Linked DNA regions of Homo sapiens. The protein of the gene in region 2 purifies or fractionates together with the protein of the main gene of each other region. This does not show direct contact. Each region holds a gene or a part of one and is shown on either strand. Other genes may lie near its edges.

Region 1 (4,332 bases), on a different chromosome or scaffold from region 2:
AATTTGACTTTACGGCAACACAGCCCATTTCGAAGCAAGTAATGTCTCTACTACAGTATGGAGAACCATCTGGAAGAAGGGGAGTTGCTATTAGGTGCTTCTTTTTCTGATTATTACTTCTCATCATGCTCAAAAACTGCTCATCAACTAAAATGTATGCTGCTCCTCATGTTCTCTCTACTACTAATTCGGGTATTTTAAAAGCTATCTTTTTTTTTTTTTTGCCTCAATTTTGTCTTCCTCAACACTAATTGCAAATTGCTTTCCTTTTGTAATAATAAAAAGAGAAAGCAAAAATTAGTTTCTTTTATGTGGGACCTCACAGGATAAATTAAAAAGAAGGGCAGTGTGCAGAAATAAGTGAACCTGGGTCCAAGACTGCCATCTTTAGCAAGGCTTGTTTGCAAGGTTGGCCCTTGGCTGGTATCTGACAAGCTGGCTGATAAAACAAATCCCTACACTGATATAAATACATTCCCTCAGTGATAAGAATGGCTCACTGTGCCTCAACTGTTTGTATAAATGATGTGATTTATGTTGAACACCTTTCCTTCTGGAAATCTAGAAAAAGTTCTTTATGTTGCCAGTATCTAAAATTTCAAGATGATATCCCTTACACAGGTCAATTTTCACCCACTGTAAAACTGCTATTGCCACTCATCTTTTTATTGCAGCACTAAGCAGACCCTCAATCCAGAAACCAATGTCCTTCAGATTAGAAAACTAGAGTTCAAAGATGTTAAGTGCCATACAAATAGTAAATGACAGGCCAACAAAATTCTTTAGGGCTAAATTACAAATACATGGCTCATTATAAAACTGTCTCTTCTTCAGTGATATAAACTTATTTTTATTTGCCTTAATCCCTGAACTCAATCCCAAAGCAGATTGTGGCCTTATTCTTAAAGGTGTACTGTACTTCAAATCACAAGCTGATTGGTTCTGGTCAGGTGCAGTGGCTCACACCTATAATCCCAGCACTTTGGGAGGCTGAGGCAGATGGATCATTTGAGGTTAGGAGTCCGAGACCAGCCTGGCCAACATTGTGAAACCCCATCTCTACTAAAAGTACAAAACTTAGCCAGGCTAAGTAATCCCAGCTACTTGGGAGGCTGAGGCAAGAGATCACTTGAATCCAGGAGGCAGAGGTTGCAGTGAGCCGAGATGGTGCCATTGCACTCTAGCCTGGGTGAACAGAGGAAGACTCCATCTCAAAAAACAAACAAACAAACAAACAAACAACAACAACAACAAAAAACAAGCTGACTGGATTTAGACTAAATACAAATGTATGTAGGCAAATGCTTTTTTTCCTTACCCAATAAGGTGAATCCTTATTATCCAAGGGAGAATGGAGTCAGGCTACTTTATTTTAATCCTCACTTTTCCACTTAATACTGGAAGGCACTGGGCAAATAATTTAACCTCTCTAAAGCCTTATTAGTTTGCTAAATTGTAAAATTAAGATGGTGAAAGTATCTATTTCACAGGTTGGTATGAGAAGTAAATAGTGTAATTATAAAACATAGCACAGTGCACAGTGCCTGGTACCTAGCAAGTACTTCATAAAAATTAGCTATTGCTGTTGCTATTAATGATATAAAACTATATAATACACTGCATCATGGTTACCTGACTGTATGTATTGTCTCCCTCACTGGGTCACAGGGACTATACACTTTTGTATTCTCAGAGCCTGGAACACAATATACTCTCAATAGCTTTTTTTTTTTTTTAATGTCTAAATCCTTATAAAGAAAAAAAGGGAAGAAAAAGATCTCTAAAATGTTACTCTCCAGTTTAAATTTAGCAAATGTAAACATGGTCAAAATGATCTCACTTGGTTCTTATTCACAGAATTTCTTTAAGGGATGGAGGGCAGACAGAAGGTATAATCATAGCTACCATTTCCTGAATGCCTAACATGTGCTACGGATGTGCTAAGTATTTTATATACACTATCTCACTTAATTTCCACAATAACTCTACAAGGTAAGAACAGTTAAAATCCTCCTTTTACAGATAACACTAAGGGTTTAAAAAACCTGCCAAAGGTGAAAGGCAGAAAGTGGTAAAGCCAGGACTCAAAACCCATGCTCTCTCATTATTCTACACTGCTTTCCCATGAAGTGCAAGGAAAGGAATTATTAGCCATCAAAAACACAAAGAACAGGAAACAAAGAGATCCCTGAAGTGACAGCTATACATTGTATCTTGATTCCTAACAAGCTCTAGTAATAACATTTTAAAAACCTAAAAAAAAAAAAAAGATGTTAATCTTGAATAGGACCACAAAACTCACAGGGTATCAAAAATGTTGAACCTCCCCCCCCAATGTAAAACCAACTGCAATTTGGCTGAAAACAGAGCTCAAAAAGTACTATCTTAAAGAAATTACTCCCCTACACCACCCACTGAAGAGATAAAGACAACTTTTTTTTGAGACAGAGTCTTACTCTGTCACCCAGGCTGAGCGCAGTGGCGCGATCTCAGCTCACTGTAACCTCCGCCTCCTGGGTTCAAGCAATTCTCATGCCTCAGCCTCCCGAGTAGCTGGGATTACAGACAAGTGTCATCACAGTCAGCTAATTTTTGTATTTTTTAATAGAGATGGGGTTTCACCATGTTGGCCAGGCTAGTCTCGAACTCCTGGCCTCAAGTGATCCACGTACCTCAGCCTCCCAAAGTGCCACCACACCCGGCCAAGATAAAGACAACTTTTGTCAGACTAACACACCTGATGCCAGAGCTGGCTGGCTAACCAGTTCAAAGAAAACAGGCATTTGATAGCTTTAATAGAACATTATGAAGAATCATTTCAGTTACGTTTCTCCACTGCACATTTGAATAATAAAAAATTCTACAAAGACACTTCACTGAAGGTATGGCATCAGGAACTCCATAAGTGCTTAGGAAGGATATTAAACACAACTCAGGTCTGAAGGATATGTAGTCAGTACAGGAAGGCATTTTCCAAATTAACTCATTTGAGGGAATACAGCCTTCTGTTCCCATGCATCTCACCACACTCAAAGGGATAGGGTGGGATCAAAAAAAGAGACAAAATAAGCCAGGCACAGTGGCAACATGTTTATAACTTCAGCACTTTGGGAGGCCAAGGTGGAAGGATCGCTTGAGTTCAGGAGTCTGAGATCAGCCTGGGCAACATAGCAAGACTCCTCCGTATCTACAAAAAAATGTAATTTAAAAAATTAGCCAGGTGTGGTGGTGCCCACCTAAAGTCCCAGCTACTTGGGAGACAGAGGCAGGAAGATGGCTTGAGCTCAGGAGGTATAGGCTGCAGTGAGCCGTGATTGTGCCACTGCACTCCAGCCTGGACAATAGAGTGAGAATCCATCTCAAAAAACAAAAGGACAAAATCCTTGGTCATTAGGATATGTCCAGCAAAACAAAATTGTTTTGAGTATGACACATGAACACCTTCAATTATCTTATTTTAATCACAGTGAAAACAGAAGTTATGCAGTGATATAAAAGACCTGAGTGGATTGCTTCATAAAGTTCCCTGGCTTGATAATAAGACTCAAAGGATTCCTCAATTCACACTGGAGAGATGAAGAATTACCAAGGGTGAGAGTGGTGTCAATGGTGACCCTGTTCTGATTTAGACAGAACTGAGCATGGCTTTAAGAAAAATAAACTTTTTCTCTCCTTTATCCCAGTTTAGAAAGTAGACAGAAGCTGCAAAGGGGGAAAGTAGTAGGAGATGAGGCATCCGAGAGAAACCATTTCCTAGTTATTAGGCTAAAGAACTTGAACTTTATTCTGAAGCAGGCAATGGAGAGTATTTTAAGCATGGGAATAACAATCAAATTTACGTTTTTTTTTTAAGTCATTTTAGTGGCAACCTGGCAGATGATCTGGAGGGGAGTAACACTGGACATAGAGATGCAGATGGGGCCTGATGTAAGTGCAGAGCCTCAATGCTCAACAGAGCAGCAGTAGGGGGACTGAAAGGGAGTATTCTGAGGTAGAATTGGCAGGACTTAGTAACAGACTAGTTATAAGGAACATGAAAGAGAAGAGACAGAGATGACCACCTACTAGAATTAGGGCTTGGATGACTTGTTGGAGCCATCATGTCATTTTCCAAGAAGAAGAATACAGGAGGAAAAAGGATAAATACCCATTTGTATATGTGGAGTTCTAAACTAAAATAAGGAGATAATAAAAACTGATGGCAAACTCAGAAGCTGAGATTACAATTTCAGTTGGAAATATATAGTGCCTATATCCCCCCCACACACACATATTTAGCAAGAAAGGAAAATGTTCAGTTTGGGAAGAAAATGATGTCTATCTTAAGAATGT
Region 2 (5,114 bases):
CATCCAACTGGTCTGATCTTGGCTGTGCTCCCTCTCCAAGAGCCCCCAACAAAATGCCCCTCATCCTAGGAGCTGCCATTGAAGGAATGCTCAGATTTCTTAAGCCTCCTGAGGGTGGGAGTGTCTGAGGGGGCCTTCATGATGGGCTTCTCCAGGAGAGAATTGCTTTTTAACTAGGACTTGCAAAACATTAAACTTGATTCAATTAAATTCAAGTCAACTCAACAAACCTAACTCCACCAGTAGCCCTTCCAATTGACAGGCTGTGTGCTGGGCGCTCAGGAAATGATGGAAGGAATGAAGGGCTAATGGAGGAACTTAAGGCGGAGAAACAAGGTGGTGGAGGGGTCCCCACCCAGTCCCTTACCTCATCTCTTGCAGGGCCTGGAGCAGAGTCCACTGTCCATGGAGCAGGGCACCGACCTTGGCAGAGTCCTGCAGAGGGGCAGCCTCTTGTCTAGGGCCCAGGACATAGCCCCTCTCTTCTCAGAGCCCACCTTCCCAGCGGCACTGCAGCCTCTTCCTTCCAGAGGCCTTCCCAGATTACCAGGGCCTCCTTATTTGGACACACTGTGTTTCTCTGACCTCATCCATAAGGGCATCCACATTCCCCCTCCACTCACGCCCCTCTCCCCAGGGGTGGTTGTTTCCTCCCAACAGTGGCCACTTCAGGGTTTTCTCAAAATACTTCTCCCTTCTTATTTATTTATTTGAGATGGAGTCTTGCTCTGCGGCCAGGCTGGAGTGCAGTGGCACAATCTCAGCTCACTGCTACCTCTGCCTCCTGGGTTCAAGCGATTCTTCTGCCTCAGCCTCCCAAGTAGCTGGGACTACAGATGCATGCCACCACGCCCAGCTAATTTTTGTATAATTTTTGTATTTTCAGTAGAGACAGGGTTTCACCATGTTGGCCAGGATGGTCTCGATCTTTTGACCTTGTGATCTGCCCGATGGTGTCAGTCTTTTGACCTCGTGATCTGTCCGCCTTGGCCTCCCAAAGTGCTAGGATTACACGCGTGAGCCACCATGCCAAGCCAAAATACGTCTCCCTTCTAAAAGTGGTTCTGTCCCCTGAAGGAAGCAGAGGCCCAGCCCAGTCCTCTCTGCCCTGGTTCTCCCAGAGCACCAGCCAAGCTGGGGCCAGTGCTGGTCAACACCCAGTGTTTGGGTCCCTACCTTATTGAGTGACATGGAGAGGTGGCCACCCCTCCCTGGGGTGGATGGAATCTGGCAGGAAGCATCCAGGGCCTGGGGATAGGATCAGAGAGGCTTGGCCCTGGAGTGTAAGTCCCCTCCCCTCTTCCCCACACTAGCAGCCCAGCCTAAGCTGCTCTGACACAAGATTAAAACCTCGAGCTGTCAGAGCCCAGCAAAGCCCACAAGAGCTGCTGGCCTCCTCTGCCCAGTATCTAACACCTTGGCTGAGTTTAGCTCTCAGGCCCCCAGGCTGGGCATGACCCGAGTTATGACTCCCTGGGGGAGGAGCCAGATGGCAATGGAGATGCAATGAGGCTTCTGGTGCAACTGAGCATTAAGCAAGCCCTATGCAAATCGCATGTGAAGCTACATGCAAATTAGCACCTAGTCTATTTCTGTCATTCATCTACAGAGCTGAGTCCAAATAGCTGGCATCTCCTCTCCCCAGCCCCAGCCTCAGCCCCAGCCCCGTGCGCATTTGCTTGTGCAGAGATGCCATCCTGCATGCTGCCCTGCCCCATCCTGTGACCTGCAGCATTTCATCCCTGCCTTCCTTTCCCTCCAGGCCTTAGGGGAGACTAGTTGCTGACTACAGTGCTTGCTCCTCTTTCAGGCCCGCAGGTGGAGCCTTGGATGCCTGTAGGGCTTCTCACCCAGCCTCCGTCAGGCCTGGCTTGGCCTGGGGGCCCCAGCTGCTTCTTCCATTGTCTCTCAGCCTGGGCCAGCTGCTTGGAGAGACCCCGCAGAGCCTGCAGGATCCGGCGGTGTCTGCCCAGCGTCTCCTCCAGGTCAAAGAGCCTTTCCCCTGGGGATTAGGGCAGAGCTGGGATGGGCAGCCAGCCATGGTGGGGTAACACAGCCTATCTTATCTTTGGGGTGGCTTCTTGGAGAGGGGTGCCAGAAGGTGTGGCTGCTGCCTCCAAGACCCTCTCCTGGAAGATGAGTCTGAGTGGTAAGGTGGGGATAGCACAGAACACTTGGGCCCAGGGCCTGCTTAGATGTGGCCTCCTCAGGCCTCAGTTTCCCTACTGATTAAAGGACCCCTGGTCATAAGGGTGGAGGATGCTGTGACACTCAGATGGGCGCCACCTGCCCGCTCTCTCGGTCCCTACCTTCTCCTTGAGCTTCAGAGTCTGATTTTGGAGTTACATCCTCCCTGGTGCCCAAGCCCAGCCTTGCCCACAGCCCTTCCAGCTGCCTCGCCAGGCGGAGCTGCTGCATCTCCAGGAAGGGCTGAGGGGGAACCTAGGGGAGGAAGACAGAAAGTCGGGCCCCAAACCCATGGGAGATCCAGAAGCAAGGGGAGCCTTCCCACAGGCTTCCCCACGAGCCCAGCCTTCCTCCCTGGCCAGCTGGCCCTGCAGTTTCCAGCCCTCTGAGTTCTGCCTTCACGCAGATCCCCACCATCTTCCCTCCCTGCTGTGGCCTCAAGCCTATATGTGCTGGTCCGAGGCTCCTTTAAGCTCATCTCCTCCAGGCAGCCTTCCTTGACCCCCTGGCTGGTTGGGACTCCTCCTCTGTGCTCCCACAGCCCCCTGCACCTTTTGAGACCTGGCACTGATCGCTCTGAACTGTAATGTCACAGCCTGAGCCAGCCAGCCTGCGAGACCTCACACACCGGCCCTGGCCCGCAGCACTGCCCTGCACAAGGTCTGGCCTGAGCAGAGCTCAGAGGCCAGGTGGAGGTAAGGGCTGGAATGGCAGGTCTGAGGGCACCATGACATGGGTGAGGGCAGGGTCCCTGGGCTGCCATTCCCAGGTAGGCCAGGGCTGGCATCACCTCTGGGCTGGGCTCACTCAGGCTGAAGGTCAGGAAGGACAGGACATCATGATCATCTGGAAGGGGACAGATGAAGGAGAAGTAAGACCCCTCCACCCAGCAACCCCCTCGCTCAGCCTTCACCCTAACCGCCATGATATCCCACCGAGGCAAGAGGGGTGACTTTGGGCCACCGTCTGATGCTTGTCTTGCTTACTTCCTAGGAAAGGTGTGAGGGTTGACAGGTAGACGGGTGGGTGGTGAGGGTTGAACCTCACACTCAGTCAGAGGCAGGCCCCTGTGGCAGAACTGGACGATCCCAAAACATCCTGGGCTAGAGCCATGGCAGCAGACCATCTGACACTCTTAGGCCCCCAGAGCACAGCTGCTACTGGTAGTAGCAACTGCACAGTGGCCACCTTTCCAGCATAGCTCTGACCATGTCACTCTCCTCCTCAGAAACCAGACCAAGGTCCTGGCATTCAAGGACTCCCACGCTCTGGTTGCCCTCAGCTTTCCCGCTGTGGGACCCTCCGTGGACTCTCCATGGTGTCACATTTCTTTGCTCCATTTTCCTAAATGCCCCTCTTTGCTGTCTGTCTTCCACTTGTCCCGCAACTCACAGCTAGGGGCACTTATGTGGCCAGCACTGAAATCAAAGCTTCTCTTGTTTTATCCCATTTGAGACTTGCAAGTCTCAAGGCAGACATGACTTCTCCCAAGGGTCACAGAAGCCCAGGTCATGTGGTGAAGTGGCTGACGCCACCCCAGTGCTCTTTAGAAGGTGTGCTGAGGGTGATTTATTCATCACTGCCCTTCTGCTCTTACCTGTCCAGTGGGATCCTCACCTGCCAGGGTGCCGGTGGCTGCTGAGACCCCAAAGAAACCTCCAGGGACCAAAAGCAGGGGCCCCACATCCACACAGAACTCACCTGGATCACTGGGAGTGAGGCCACTGTTCAAGGACATCTGAGGGACATGGAGAGAGTGAGCAGTGGGGGGGTGTCCCTACCTCTGACTCCCTGGCTCCCCTGGCCGTGGGATGGCAGGTGGCCCTAGGGCTTGGTATCAGAATGGCATGGAGGTGACCCGCACTCCTGGTCTCATGTGAGCCCTTACATGTATGTGCTCTGGGTGAGTGTTAGGATTCTGTGTAGGGATGGAGGATCCCCTGTGGATGTTGGCCCGTGTGTGCCAGGGACCTCACGTGGTGTCACAGGCACTGGTGTGTTGGGGCCGTGGGCACGCACACATAGCAGCTCTGTAACTCAGAGCCCTGTCAGAAGCAGGAAGGGTGACTCACGCGCAGCCTCTGCCCCCAGTAGGTGATCCGTGCTCTGAAGGGGTGTGGCCGGTTCCGGAAGTCCCAATGACAGGAGCCCAGCCCTTGGCTAGCTCCATCCCTGTGGGCAGTTTGTTCATTTGTTTGTTTTTGAGAAAGAGTCGCTGCCCAGGCTGGAGTGCAGTGGTGCAGTTGTGGCTCATTGCAACTTCTGCCTGCTGGGCTCAAGTGATCCTCCCACCTCAGCCTCCCAAGTAGCTGAGACTACAGGCATGCACCACCATGCCCGGCTAATTTTTGTATTTTTAGCAGAGATGGGGTTTCACATTGTTGGTCAGGCTGGTCTCAAACTCCTGACCTCAAGTGATCCACCTGTCTTGGCTGCCAAAGTGCTGGGATTACAGGTGTGAGCCACCATGCCTGACTCTTGTGGGCAGTTGGAATCCAGCCAGGATATACAGGACTCAAGGCCTGGACAGTGAGGGCAGTCCCAGAAGCCACTCTGCCCAGATTTGCTGTGCCACCTCCCTTTCCGCTGGGCGAGCTGGCATGGGACATGTACCTTGTCTAGCTTGAGTCTCCCTTGTTGTACCCTGCTCCCTTGGCAGAAGAGAGAGGAGCAGGGGAAGCAAGCCCTGCCTGACGGAGTGTTGGGACTTGGATTTACAGAAGGGGCCAGGGGCCTCCCTGTGGCCCTTCCTTAAGGGGACAAAGGCCTGGACCAACAATACAGTTTCTGCCCTCCATTCCCCCGACCCACCTATCACCCTCGTCCTATCACCCTTACGTCCCTCCTTCTTCTCTCTCTCTTTTTTTTTTTTTTTCTGAGACGGAGTCTTGCTCTGTTGCCCTGGCTGGAGTGCAGTGGCGCGATCT

Evidence for each region. The genes of interacting proteins can lie anywhere in the genome.
Region 1: the proteins of LMAN1L (region 2) and SPCS2 purify together in Homo sapiens (affinity purification with mass spectrometry; one large-scale study listed by BioGRID and IntAct). This does not show direct contact.

The regions. Positions count from the first base shown.
Region 1 is NC_000011.10:74,958,440-74,962,771, reverse strand, and holds part of SPCS2 (signal peptidase complex subunit 2), read right to left. Parts: intron 1-4,332. UniProt on the Homo sapiens protein: Component of the signal peptidase complex (SPC) which catalyzes the cleavage of N-terminal signal sequences from nascent proteins as they are translocated into the lumen of the endoplasmic reticulum.
Region 2 is NC_000015.10:74,817,963-74,823,076, reverse strand, and holds part of LMAN1L (protein ERGIC-53-like precursor), read right to left. Parts: intron 4,360-5,114; coding exon 4,260-4,359; intron 3,926-4,259; coding exon 3,805-3,925; intron 3,034-3,804; coding exon 2,978-3,033; intron 2,443-2,977; coding exon 2,310-2,442; intron 2,003-2,309; coding exon 1,851-2,002; intron 1,249-1,850; coding exon 1,177-1,248; intron 436-1,176; coding exon 368-435; intron 1-367.